Regions from separate parts of the Homo sapiens genome. Here all the other regions are reported to be linked to region 1. The links are microRNA targets in miRTarBase. Many come from high-throughput screens and were not tested one by one. Region 1 holds a microRNA gene; each other region holds the end of a gene's coding sequence.

Region 1 (4,065 bases):
AGGATGGTGCCAGTTCTTTCCACAAAGGCTGGTCAGATACCCAGAAAGTATTTCTCCACTACTACCTGGACAATGTGTCTCCCAGTCAGTCTACAGGGAATGGGGTCTGGATCAAGTATTTCACATTCAGCAGTTACTACGCTGTCACCTAATCCCTCATTTTCAATATTTTGCCATGTCTTCCAGTGGCCTAACTGGCCACCATGCCACAGAATCTTTACTTTGTGGTCTCCAAAGAAGAATTCTCCATTTGATGTTTTGTGATTTGAGCAATGGAATAGAATCTGATACTGGTGGGCTGGGGGAGGTCCCCGGACACTGGTAGGATCTCGACCCCAGCTGTGGTGTCCAGGCTCTTGACACCATCTCAAGAATGAGGTCAAGGATGAGTTAGCAAATAGTGAAAGAAGAGATTTATTGCAAAGCAGAAAGTACACACTCAAGAAAGGGGAGTTTGGGCATACCTGAGAGAGAACAATGGGTTCTGGGGTTTCATCTCAATGGGTTTCTTTAACCAAGGAGTGGAATATTGATGAAAATTCCTGGGTAAAGGTGGAGATTTCTCAGAACTGTGGTGCCATCCATTTTTACATCAAATATTGGTCTCAGAACTGTCATGGCACTGGTGGGTGTGTGATTTAGTATGTTAATAAGCGTATAATGAGGGCCTAGGTAAAACCTACGTCAAATCCAGCACCACATTGGGTCCAGTCAGTCTTAGCCAGCTTGGTCCACACCCTGGTTTTTCAGCATCTTATCAGCCCATAGCCTCAAGTCATGTAAATCTGCTGCCTAGAATTTGTTATCCTGTGACCACCCTGTATTATTCCTGTCTCAAATCTACTTGTAAATATTCAAATGGTCTTTGACTTGGGAATTCCAACTTTGCTTACTTCACAGTGTTTCCTGCATTATAATCCCATATAAGAAAAGATGATCCAGACATTTGTTAAGCATCACAAATAAGATGTATCCCAGGTATTTTTGTCAAATTTGGATTATTTTGGTTTTGTCTTTGCAGAATATAAAAAACTAACACGAGGTAAGCAATAAGGTCTGGAGATGGCTGTGCAAAAGATGACAAAGTGCAACACCACATTTGAGAGTGTCCAATCATTTCTTCTGTGGCAGCATATTTTTCCACAATACTGAATTTGGAAAAAAATAAAAATAAAAATAAAAAAAACTACAAGATTCATTAAACTTGACAACTGTTTTTATAACATTACCAGTGATAAAATCAGTAAGGAAGGCTGGTTTGCAGTCATCTGAGAAGCCTCTTTACTTTCATAAATATGGTTTCTCTGTGACATTGAACGGCTTCCAATTTCAAGCGGAATGCTACATTACAAGGATAAGTATGTGAAGAAAACCGGTTTCTTTTGTAGTCCTAAACGTTCTAGTCTGCGAAATAAAAGTCATTATGTGAAGAAGAGTACCCAGGCTCCATCTGGCCACCGAAAGTTTGCTTCACAAGATAGGCTAAGGACCAGCTTCTTTGGGCGAAAACAGATGCCGGGGCGGGAGGGAAAAAGGGAGAGGCAGACGTCACTTCCTCTTGCTGGTTCAGGCAGCGGGTTGGTCGGCTGACTGGCAGAAAGGCAGATGGGGCCTGGGAAAGGCACTGTCGGTGACATCACGGATAGGGCGACTTCTATGTAGATGAGGCAGCGCAGGAGCTGCTGCTTCCCCACCTGCTGCTTCGCCTCGAAGGAGTTCCCGAGCCTTGGGAGCGGGCTCAGGACCGCTGGTCCGGCCGGAGAGTCCCAGCTGTGTGTCAGGGCTAGGAGGGCTGGGGGGTGCGCGGGGCAAGCGACCGTGCGTGTAAAGGGTGAGGCGTACGGGGCGGAGGTGCAGGAGCTCATATTTACTTGGCAGGGGAGATAACATGATCACGAAGGTGGTTTTCCCAGGGCGAGGCTTATCCATTGCACTCCAGATGTGTTGACCCCTGCGATTTCCCCAAATGTGGGAAACTCGATTGCATAATTTGTGGTAGTGGTACTGCGTTCGCGCTTTCCCCTGATTTTTTGTAGTTTCAAGAATACGCTGTACTCTAAGGGCTACTTTTTTCTTTCATTGATTTGTGTCTTGGACGTGTTATTCTTACAGTGGAAGGCTGGGAAATAGGAATTAAGATGTCGCTTCTCCCACTGAGGAGAAATAGGGAGCGTCAGCCTTAACACAAACAAACTAGCGCGAAGGCCGTACAGCTCTTCCCTTTCTACGCAGGGCTGCTTTTTGCAGAGATTGGTCCATGGTCTCCAGTGTCTTGGGTTCTCACGCTCTGTGAAAATCTTCGTGGTTTTCTCTAGCCCCCAGAGTCACCTTTTACACAGCCCCTGCTTCTAACCGCAGCCCCCTCAGGAGTTTGTAGGATTTCTGTGCTAGCGGGGAATGTGTTCTCACCTCATAGAGCCAGGTACAAACTACGCAGACAGGCGCTGTTCTTTGGGATGAAAGCAGGGCCTTTGGGGCTCTTAGTGTCCCCGTTCATTTGCAGACATAACACGCTTACTTTGTGTAGGGGAATGGCTTTCCCGGAGCCCAGGTGCCCTAATGCAATTCGTGGAGGCCCGCAGGTCAGAACCGCAGTCTTACTTGTCTTGGCTGAAATGCGCTGCGATCCTCCCTGAAATATAAGGCAGGAAGTTTTATGAGCAGCGGGGTCCAGTTTCCCTATTATCTCCTGCTGTTTACATATCTAGTCTTTCTTCAGACTTTATTTAAATGACAACTTCTTGTTTGATGTCTCGCTTCCATATCCTACATCCATTGCCAGGCAACTTTTTAGATAGCACCCCGACCCATCCTTCCCACCCCCAAGCAGCCCTTTCCTACTTCTGGCGCCAGTGTCCTTCCCGGTCCGTCTTTCTTCAGGCCCTCCCTTATCACCTTCATGGACAGAAAATACTTAGCTCTCTTTCAACCTGCAGTTTGCACCTGACACGCGTCAGTACCCTGGCAAATTCCTTAATACCCCTTCTCAAATGGCACTGTAAATTCATCTCTTTTTAACTCCCAGAAGTATCTAATTGGTCTTGTCCCTGCATTGCATGAATACTAGTATTCCACTACAAAAGAAAACCCCAGGCCTAGAGATGGCGGTTCTGGGCATTGTGCCAGCATTTCCCAGGGTATGTTTTCTGACCTCACCTACTTCTGATCAACTGAGGTCAGGAGTTCGAGACCAGCCTGACCAACATGACGAAACTCCGTCTCTACTAAAAATACAAAAAAAAAAAAAAAAAAAAAAAAAGCAAAAAAAGCAAAAAAAGCTGGATGTGGTGGTGTGTGTCTGTAATCCTAACTACTGGGGAGGCTGAGGCAGGAAAATCGCTTGAACCCAGGAGGCAGAGGTTGCAGTGAGCTGAGATCATGCCATTGCACCTCAGCCTGAGCGACAGAGCGAGACTCTGTCTCAAAACAAAACAAAACAAAACAACAAAAAAAAACTAGGCCATCTGAGACATATTATTGGAGACAGTAGAATCCTGCATCCAACAGGCACTTGGTGCAGATCTGAACCCACTGAATTATTGGCTCATGTTCCGTCTGTTTTATTAAGTATCATGAGCAGAAATTGAGCTCTTTGGCTTTTACACACTAAGTATGGCTATAGGACAGGTCTCTCTCTCTCTCTCTCTCTCATTATTGTGTCATTATTTTTTGCCATCAGTGTGGGCTTTTGGTTTTGATGTTATGAAGTGAATTTGTATGGACAATTTCTGTTGGGTGGTGTTGACAAGGATCCAATCCCTGTTTGGTAATACATGACAGCTAATCTGCTCTGTGAGACTTTTTTTATTGTCTATTTATTGTCCTGAGAATAATGGTATTTCCTGATATTTGAGACTGCAGCAATGATAAGTTGTTCATATCTTGTCTTTCCAATGTTTGGTAAAAATTTTATGGGCCCAATAGTTGTCAATATCTGCAAGAGTGGCATCCCTGTTACAAGAGTGATCTTACTACTCAATGTCCCCCCTCCCATCAAACTTCGTTCCATAGGAAGTCTTGGCTTTAACAAATTTACTATATCTAAAAGACATCTTAGTACAGGAA
Region 2 (4,058 bases), not on the chromosome of region 1:
ATCCCCTGTGATTTGCACGTATACATCCAGATGGCCTAAAGTAACTGAAGATCCACAAAAGAAGTAAAAATAGCCTTAACTGATGACATTCCACCATTGTGATTTGTTCCTGCCCCACCCTAACTGATCAATGTACTTTGTAATCTCCCCCACCCTTAAGAAGGTACTTTGTAATCTTCCCCACCCTTAAGAAGGTTCTTTGTAATTCTCCCCACCCTTGAGAATGTACTTTGTGAGATCCACCCTGCCCACAAAACATTGCTCTTAACTTCACCGCCTAACCCAAAACCTATAAGAACTAATGATAATCCATCACCCTTCGCTGACTCTCTTTTCGGACTCAGCCCACCTGCACCCAGGTGAAATAAACAGCTTTATTGCTCACACAAAGCCTGTTTGGTGGTCTCTTCACATGGATGCACATGAAACTATGAACATAAGAATCTCTGAAGTTAGGTTACACTTGACCACACAAGGCTTGCATAGTTGAGTGACTAGCCATGAAGATAATTTAAACAACTCTTCTGGCTCAATTGGCATATTGCTAATCAATCTTCTAATAAATTTAGATTTTCATATAAATTTTTAAGCAAGAGAAGGGAGAACTCAGCTAACCTAATCTGTTTCCCTTAATTTTAGTCATCAATTTACATAAAAGAAACAGTCTAATGTTAATGCTTGTGAACTTGTCACTATAACCAGGCTTTTGTGTGACTTAGTAGATCAAGGTTTCAACTCTATAAGAGAAAGCAAATTCTGAATTGTGGTGTAACTGCCACCTGGTCCAATTTTATCTGACCTCAGTTTCACAATCCTCTCCTTGTATGTAGTTAACTCTGTTTTTGCTACAATGTTGTGATGGGTTATCACAAATAGCAAAGTATTAAGAATTCCAGTCAGAATGTTAATTATTAAAAAGTCAAACAATAGATGCTGGCAAGGCTGTGGAGAAACAGGAATGCCTTTACACTCTTGGTGGGAATGTAAATTAGTTCAACCATTGTGGAAGACTGTGTGGCGATTCCTCAAGGATCTAGAAACAGAAATACCATTTGAACCAGCAATCCCATTACTGGGTATATACCCAAAGGATTATAAATCATTCTACTATAAAGACACATGCACATGTATGTTTATTGCACTATTTACAATAGTAAAGACATGGAACCAACCCGAATACCCATCAATGGTAGACTGGATAAAGAAAATGTGATACAAACACCATGGAATACTATGCAGCCATGAAAAGGAATGAGATCATGTCCTTTGCATGGACATGGATGAAGCTGGAAGCCATCATTATCAGCAAACTAACACAGGAACAGAAAACCAAACCACATGTTCTCACTCATAAGTGGGAGCTGAACAAGGAGAACACATGGACACAGGGAGGGGAACAACACACACCAGGGCCTGTTGCAGGGTGGGGGGCGGGGGAGGGAACCTAGAGGACGGTTCAATAGGTACAGCAAACCACCATGGCACACATATACCTATGTAACAAACCTGCATGTTCTGCACGTGTATCCCAGAACTTACTTAAAGTAAATTTTTTTTAAAAAAATAAATATAACTTAGATATCTTTTAAAAAAATTCCATTGTGAAGAAAAACTCCATTGAGATAATATTTGTCTACCATCTCTGCTTCCCCCTAGCCTTGGTTCCTTTTTAAAAATTGTGTCCTAGTGAGAGAACATGATACTTAATAACAAAACTGGATGCATCCCCAAGCTGAAGTTTTACTTTACTGAGTATGTGCCTGGGGTGTGGAGAAACAATAGCATCCTAACTTCAGGATTGGTAATATGACAACAGCAAATTTCTAAGAAAAGGTTTGGGATATAGAGATGTTTCCTGAATATAAACATTGGCTTATTAAAGGATAATTCCAAACATTTTTTACTGAAGTTTTAAAAAATTACTATTCCAGGAAAAAAAAAAAACCCTAGAAAAGTTCCATGTTAAATGTTTCATGTTGTTTTCTCATTGCGTTAAGACCGATGGTAAGAAGGAGCGACTGCTTTGGATACAGCCCGACACACATACCTGCTAGTTCACTCTGTGGCTGTGCATCCCTCTCCGCCAACCACAAAACTCAAATTTGGTTCACCTTGCTCAAAATGGTACCCTGATTTTTCAAGAGCATCCACTTTGATCTGTCTGAGCCAACCCTGACAATTGCAGTCCTCTTGCCACTAGACTGGTTCAGCATAAGCAGATAAAGAAATCTGCTCACTAGGGTATGAGGAAAATTATTCCAGAGGTCTGTTTCTGGGAAAGTGTTTCTCCATTTTAAGAAGAGACAGGTTATCGTATGGGGAGAAAATGCTCAGGACTGCTGAAGTCCTCTTACGGCGACAAGAGATTCCGACAAGAATGAACCTGGGTCCTCTGATACCACTGAGTCCCTGAATTAATCGTCAAGCTACCCATATGAGTCAGGGTTGGATCAGGGAGGCAGAATCAGAGAATGACAGAATAAAGATTTATTATAGAGCTTCAGCCTTACACAATTGTGGGTGCTGGTGGAGAAGTCTAGGCCAGGCTGTTCCCTCTGCATCTGGTTCTGGGCCTGAAGTCACTGTAGGTCGACTGTGAATGCAGCAAGGATGAAGGGAAGTCCATAAGAACAAACAGAACCCATGTCTGTCTCACGGCCTCCACTGCAATGCTGTGTGTGATCTCAGGAAAAGCTGATGCTGGTTGCCATGGAGCTGCACACACACCTGGCCAGTACTTTGCAAAGCTGAAGGAGGAGGCTGGCAGGAGCTGGAAGAGCTCTGGGTCCAGGGAGCTGTCTCTGGTCTCTTCTAGCTCCCCTTTTTGGCCTGGAGTCATATTTTCAAGCTGTCACCATGCTTGGGTCTGTACACTGACCTTATGAGTATAAAATAGCTGCTGATCAAATTAATGCAAATTTCTTTATGACCTACTCCAATCCAGAACCATGAGAGAGAGGAATTCCGGGACATGTTCCTCCAGCTGAGCCAAATCGGTACTGCACAAATCCAGCATATTACCTGTCACTGAATGTCTCGTGTGGGGTTACCTCCATGTTTAAAGCATGTACCAGCATATAGCCTACATGTGTGTTGATTAGGAGAGTTTTGCCTACATGTTCAAATTGCCTAACTATAGCTATATTTATATCACAATGCTGAGGAGATCTTATGACTTCCATTCTACCACTGCTGGCTCACAATATACATTCATAGATTTAGGGGTGAATCAAGCCAAAGTTGCCTAACTTTAGTAAAAACCATTCACCAACATGCCCTAGTCCCCATGAAGCGTGACTGGTCTAAGGACATCTTCTATGAGTCCTACCCATTAAGAGGAAATATGGACAAAGGATCAAGTATTTATTCATTTTTTAAACATCAGAATTGAAAAGGTTCTTCCATTTATTTAATCTGTCATGTGAAGCATTAGAAGGTAGTTTACTTGCATTTGAGGATCAAAAAATCCCCATTAACTGTGGAAGCAATGATATTCCCTTTAATTATTTTTCTAATTGCCTTGTTTATATGGTGTGAAAAGCAATTTAAACATGTTTTTAAAAATGTTTCCATGCAACCTAAGTTTTTGGCCATGAAACAGCACCTTCCTTGTACTTCTCCAGCTGTTGTCCTTTCAAAGCAGGGGATGCTATTCTTCTTGAACCTGAAAAACAGAATGTCAGTGTGTTCTGTGAATTTCCTGTGATTTTCACCAGTGGAACACATGTCCAGAACCAAGCTGAGTCCCTTCCAGAGGTAAGCAGGCCTTAGCCAACTCTTCATTAACTTCAAAGGGAGGCAGGGAATTGAGGCAATTATCTGCATTACAGAAAGCAGACCCTGGTAATTCACCCCAAGGGCATGCTCGGTCACTCTCAATTTTCTGCCTGCCTTGTCTTGCCAATGAAGGCAGCGCCCCCCTTTGCCAACCCCATAAGGAGAAAGATTCTGCAGCCACATCACCAGTTTGCTCCCCAGCCCTGACACAGAATTCTATCAGCAAACCTCTTCCTTGTGCATATGACAGTTGAGGATTTTTTGGCTTTTCTTCTGTGAAG
Region 3 (4,058 bases), not on the chromosome of region 1:
TAATCAATCTTCATTACCAGTTCACTTGGAAGCCTTCCGGGCAGTGTTGTAGAAGCCAACCCTAATCAGCGTGACCCTCCGCTTTGGGATGAAATTGATTCTAGGTAGGGTTGACAGAGGGTTGAGCGTGGCAGCCTTTCCCCTTGTCCTCTGTGCCCTCTGGGTCATGCTCATTCCCCTCCACAGCCCAGCCCAACAACTCGGAGAGGGCTGCCTGGGTAGGAGAGACGGCAGCCCCCAGAGCTGTCCTGGACTCCCTTCTCATCTCTCCCCACAGGCAATTTCTAAACCGGGATGACATTGGCATCATCCTCATCAACCAGTACATCGCAGAGATGGTGCGGCATGCCCTGGACGCCCACCAGCAGTCCATCCCCGCTGTCCTGGAGATCCCCTCCAAGGAGCACCCATATGACGCCGCCAAGGACTCCATCCTGCGCAGGGCCAGGGGCATGTTCACTGCCGAAGACCTGCGCTAGGGGACTCCTCATAGCCCTCAGCCCTTCCCTCGTTTCCAGGCCTCTCCCCAGGCTTGCCATCAGCCTTCTTTACTTTTTGAGCCTCTGATTTCCAATTCCCTGCTCCTTCCCACTCCATTAAGAGGCTAGGTGAGGCGCTTCTAGGTTGCTGGGGCTCTGCTGGTTAAGGAACAGGAAGCCTGACCATCTCCCTCCACTACCTCTTCCCTGTGCTGTTACACAGTGTCATTGTTGATGTTAAATTAAAGTCATATTCTTGCTTCTCTCCAGATGGGTTGGGTGCTGGAAAGGACATGTGTGGGGTGAGGCCATGGGGCAGATTCGGTTGGCAAGGATGGAAAAGGTGCTGCCAAAGACAGGCATAGAAGAGGTGGCCCAGGAGGATTGTGCCGGGAGGCAGAACTCAAGGACTGGTCCTTGGATCAGAGAAGACCAGCTCTGGTCTGGGGAGGAATGGGAGGAGGCTTGAGCCCAGCTCCTGCTTCCCCCACCTTGCTCGGCATTGGGCTGGGAAGGGGGCCAGATCCAAAGGACAGAAGCAGAAAGCACACGAAACCTGGGAGTCTGTGATGCCAGATCCCGCGAGGGCCCTGCGGGAGTTTTGGGGGGAGCAGGGCTCTTAACCAGTGGGCCCTGGCCTCAGGCTGCCTCAGGAAGCCAGGCTCATGGGGTCTGCTGGGGGCATGGCAAGTAGAACCCTGGCCCTGTGTGAGGTGAGGCATGGTTGCCAGGTGACTGTGCCTGGGCAGCCACTCGCCGTCAGAAGCACTCTGCTTGCTGTGCTCACCCCTCAGCTGTGGCCACCCTGGTGCCACTCCTTCCCTGGCCACCATGTCACGGCAGCTCAACATAGACGCGTTACGGCAGAACTTCTGGAAGGAGGAATATCTGAGGGAAAAGATGTTGCGCTGTGAATGGTACCGCAAGTATGGGTCGATGGTGAAGGCCAAGCAGAAGGCTAAGGCTGCAGCCCGCCTGCCCCTCAAACTGCCCACCCTGCACCCCAAAGCCCCACTCTCACCCCCACCCGCCCCCAAGTCAGCCCCTTCCAAGGTGCCCAGCCCTGTCCCAGAGGCGCCTTTTCAGTCGGAAATGTACCCGGTACCACCTATCACCCGAGCCCTGCTGTATGAAGGCATCTCCCACGACTTCCAGGGGCGGTACCGCTACCTCAACACTCGAAAACTGGACATGCCAGAGACGCGATACCTCTTCCCCATCACCACCAGCTTCACGTATGGCTGGCAGCTGGGTGAGCCCAACCTCTTGGAAATCACCTCAAAAACAGAGCACTAGCCATGTGCTAGGGAGTGGGCATCCTGGTGAAGGGTCCAGACTATAAACAGAGCAAGGAGATGGCCAAGAAGTGTCGACACGTTCCACAGAACTAGGGAGTGGCGGTGGGCAGGGAGGCAGCGGCCACGTGCTGCTATTTATTGGATTGTCAGGAAAGGCCTTTCTGAGGACCCGAGGCTGAGAGCCAGATGATAAGGATGGGTTTGGATTTTATTTGTTGTGCAGGGAAGCTGATGGAGGGTTCTAAGCAGATTTCAAGAGTGACACTGGTGAACCTTTTAAAAAGTCACCCTGACCTGTATGTAGGCAGTGGCTTTTTCAGGGGAAATGGTAGAATCTGGCACATGAGTTGGGCATCTGTTTGGTTATCCTGTGGTAGTGGCCTGAGGGATCAGCAATAGAGCTGAAATCAATTCAGGATGTTTTGGGGGAAGACTCGGTGGAACTCACCCATGGATAGAATGTGAGAATAAGGGGAAGAGAGATCAATCACCCAGGTGTTTGTTTAGCTAAAGCTGCAGTGACAGGGAAGACTGGGAGAGGTCAGGGCTGGAGCGTGCATGAACAGGTCCTATTTAGCCATGTGTGTTTGGCTATGTTATGCTTGAAGTGTCTGTAGGGTGGCTGTGTCTATAAGTCTGGATTGAAGTCAGAGCTGAAGATGCAAATTCGGAGGTCATTGGAATATAGGTGCTTTTTTTTTTTCTTTTTCTTTTTGAAACAGTCTGACTCTGTCACCCAGGCTGGAATGCAGTGGCACGATCTTGGCTCACTGCAACCTCTGCCTCCCAGGTTCAAGAGATTCTTCTGCCTCAGCCTCCCGAGTAGCTGGGACTGCAGGCGTGTGTCACCACGCCCAGCTAATTTTTGTTTTTTTAGTAGAGACAGGGTTTCACCATATTGGCCAGGCTGGTCTCGAACTGCTGACCTCGTAATCTGCCTGTCTCGGCCTCCCAAAGTTCTGGGATTACAGGCATGAGCCACCGGCTGGCCTATAGGTGCTATTTAAATCCATGAGATCTCCTAGGGAGCTCAAGTTGCTGGAATCTGATGGGAGTGGGGGCAGGAGGGCTGAGCCAGAGCGGGTAGGGGATGTCATTGGCAGGAAGCCTGTCCATCTCGGCTGAGTCTTTTTTCTGTGAGGTTGAGTCAAGGCCATCAGCGGGGAGGGAGCTGAGCTGAGGCAGTGGAGTAACTAGAGATGAAGAGGAAAGGTGTGGAACAGGCATGTGCCAGGCAGGGCTGCTGGGCGATGTTGCTGCACGTCCCATTGCTGTCTGTGCTCATGAATGTCAAGTGAGACTCCTCAGCCCTGTACCCTTCTCCAGCTGCTTGAGTGTCTTGCAGAAAAGGTGGATGGTTGGGGATTGACTCAGTTGAGATTTTGCCCCCAAACATCCCTTTCCCCCAGGCCCCTAAAGGGGAAGTCAGGGAAATAACTTTCTAACAAAAGCAGGAGGCGAGCCCTAGAAGCGGGGAGCAGGAGGCCGAAGGAAATCTCATCTCTCCACAGTCTGTCCCTGTGACAAGCAGGCTAGGGTGGCCCCCCTCCCTGCAGGTAGAGGATCCTGAAGCTAGGGTAATGATGGCAGATGGCTGCTGTATCCTGGCATCCAGCCAGCTCCCAGTATTTGCCCATAGCTCCCATTCCTCCAAAGCACTTTCTATTTCTTCCCACAAAGTGGCTACTCCACTGACGGATTCCTAGGGCTGTGCAGACAGACAGGGCTCCCATGCTCTGCGTGTCCCTCCCTCAGGAACCCATGCTTGGCCTCTGACATCTTTTCCCAGGCCCCCCAGTGAAGCAAGAACTGGTCTCCTGCAAGATGTGCCGCATTGAGTCATTCTTCCGCAAGAACGGGGCCTTCGCACTGCTTGATCCCCGAGACCTGGCCCTCTGACCGTGGGCCAGGTGTGGGCTTAGGGGAGGGAAGAAGAAATAACAGGCCTCCTGGTGGGGCAAAGCTGCTGTGTGTGTCTGTGCCCCTCTGCTCTCCCTGTCCCTGAGGTTGCATTCAGGCCTTTCTGAAACTATCAGACCTGCAAGTTGCCCTCTTGCTTTTTCCGTAACCCTCATCACTTTAATCATCCCTTTGAGGACTCAGCAATGACCAGAGGGTGCTGGGAAGGGCGAGCACTACTTCGCAGGCACGGGATCCTCAGCACCAGGGGAACACAGTAGTTCCAGGAAGTTCTGGGTGTTCCTGGGGAGAGAGCGGCTTGTCATTTCGGAGGCCAGGGAAAGGGGCCTCCTGCCACCGCCACACCCCTCCTTGCCCGCCC

Evidence for each region. The annotated mature microRNA hsa-miR-6077 reads GGGAAGAGCUGUACGGCCUUC and lies in region 1 at 2,201-2,221, opposite strand. An mRNA with a match to its seed (bases 2 to 7 or 8) in the 3' UTR can be bound and repressed. Matches are read on the target gene's strand: a 7mer-m8 pairs with bases 2 to 8, a 7mer-A1 pairs with bases 2 to 7 and ends in A, and an 8mer does both.
Region 2: the mRNA of MYH15 is a reported target of hsa-miR-6077. Seed matches in the 3' UTR shown: 8mer at 2,772-2,779.
Region 3: the mRNA of ATP6V1F is a reported target of hsa-miR-6077. Seed matches in the 3' UTR shown: 7mer-m8 at 680-686.

The regions. Positions count from the first base shown.
Region 1 is chr1:148,386,450-148,390,514 of GRCh38, reverse strand. MIR6077 (microRNA 6077) reads right to left here and starts at 2,233; the gene lies at 2,152-2,233. It also overlaps the pseudogene RNVU1-2. RefSeq lists an enhancer at 2,091-2,930.
Region 2 is chr3:108,377,896-108,381,953 of GRCh38, forward strand. It overlaps MYH15 (myosin heavy chain 15), which reads right to left. Exons shown (of 41, transcript NM_014981.3): 41 at 2,473-3,664. The coding sequence ends at 3,650. It overlaps HHLA2 (HHLA2 member of B7 family), which reads left to right. Exons shown (of 10, transcript NM_001282556.2): 10 at 1-390. LOC124900545 (a long non-coding RNA gene) reads left to right here and starts at 3,645. Exons shown (of 2, transcript XR_007095998.1): 1 at 3,645-3,756. RefSeq lists an enhancer at 1-93.
Region 3 is chr7:128,865,100-128,869,157 of GRCh38, forward strand. It overlaps ATP6V1F (ATPase H+ transporting V1 subunit F), which reads left to right. Exons shown (of 2, transcript NM_004231.4): 2 at 278-748. The coding sequence ends at 479. SPMIP1 (sperm microtubule inner protein 1) reads left to right here and starts at 1,231. Exons shown (of 2, transcript NM_001195150.3): 1 at 1,231-1,731; 2 at 3,567-4,058. The coding sequence starts at 1,311. The coding sequence ends at 3,676.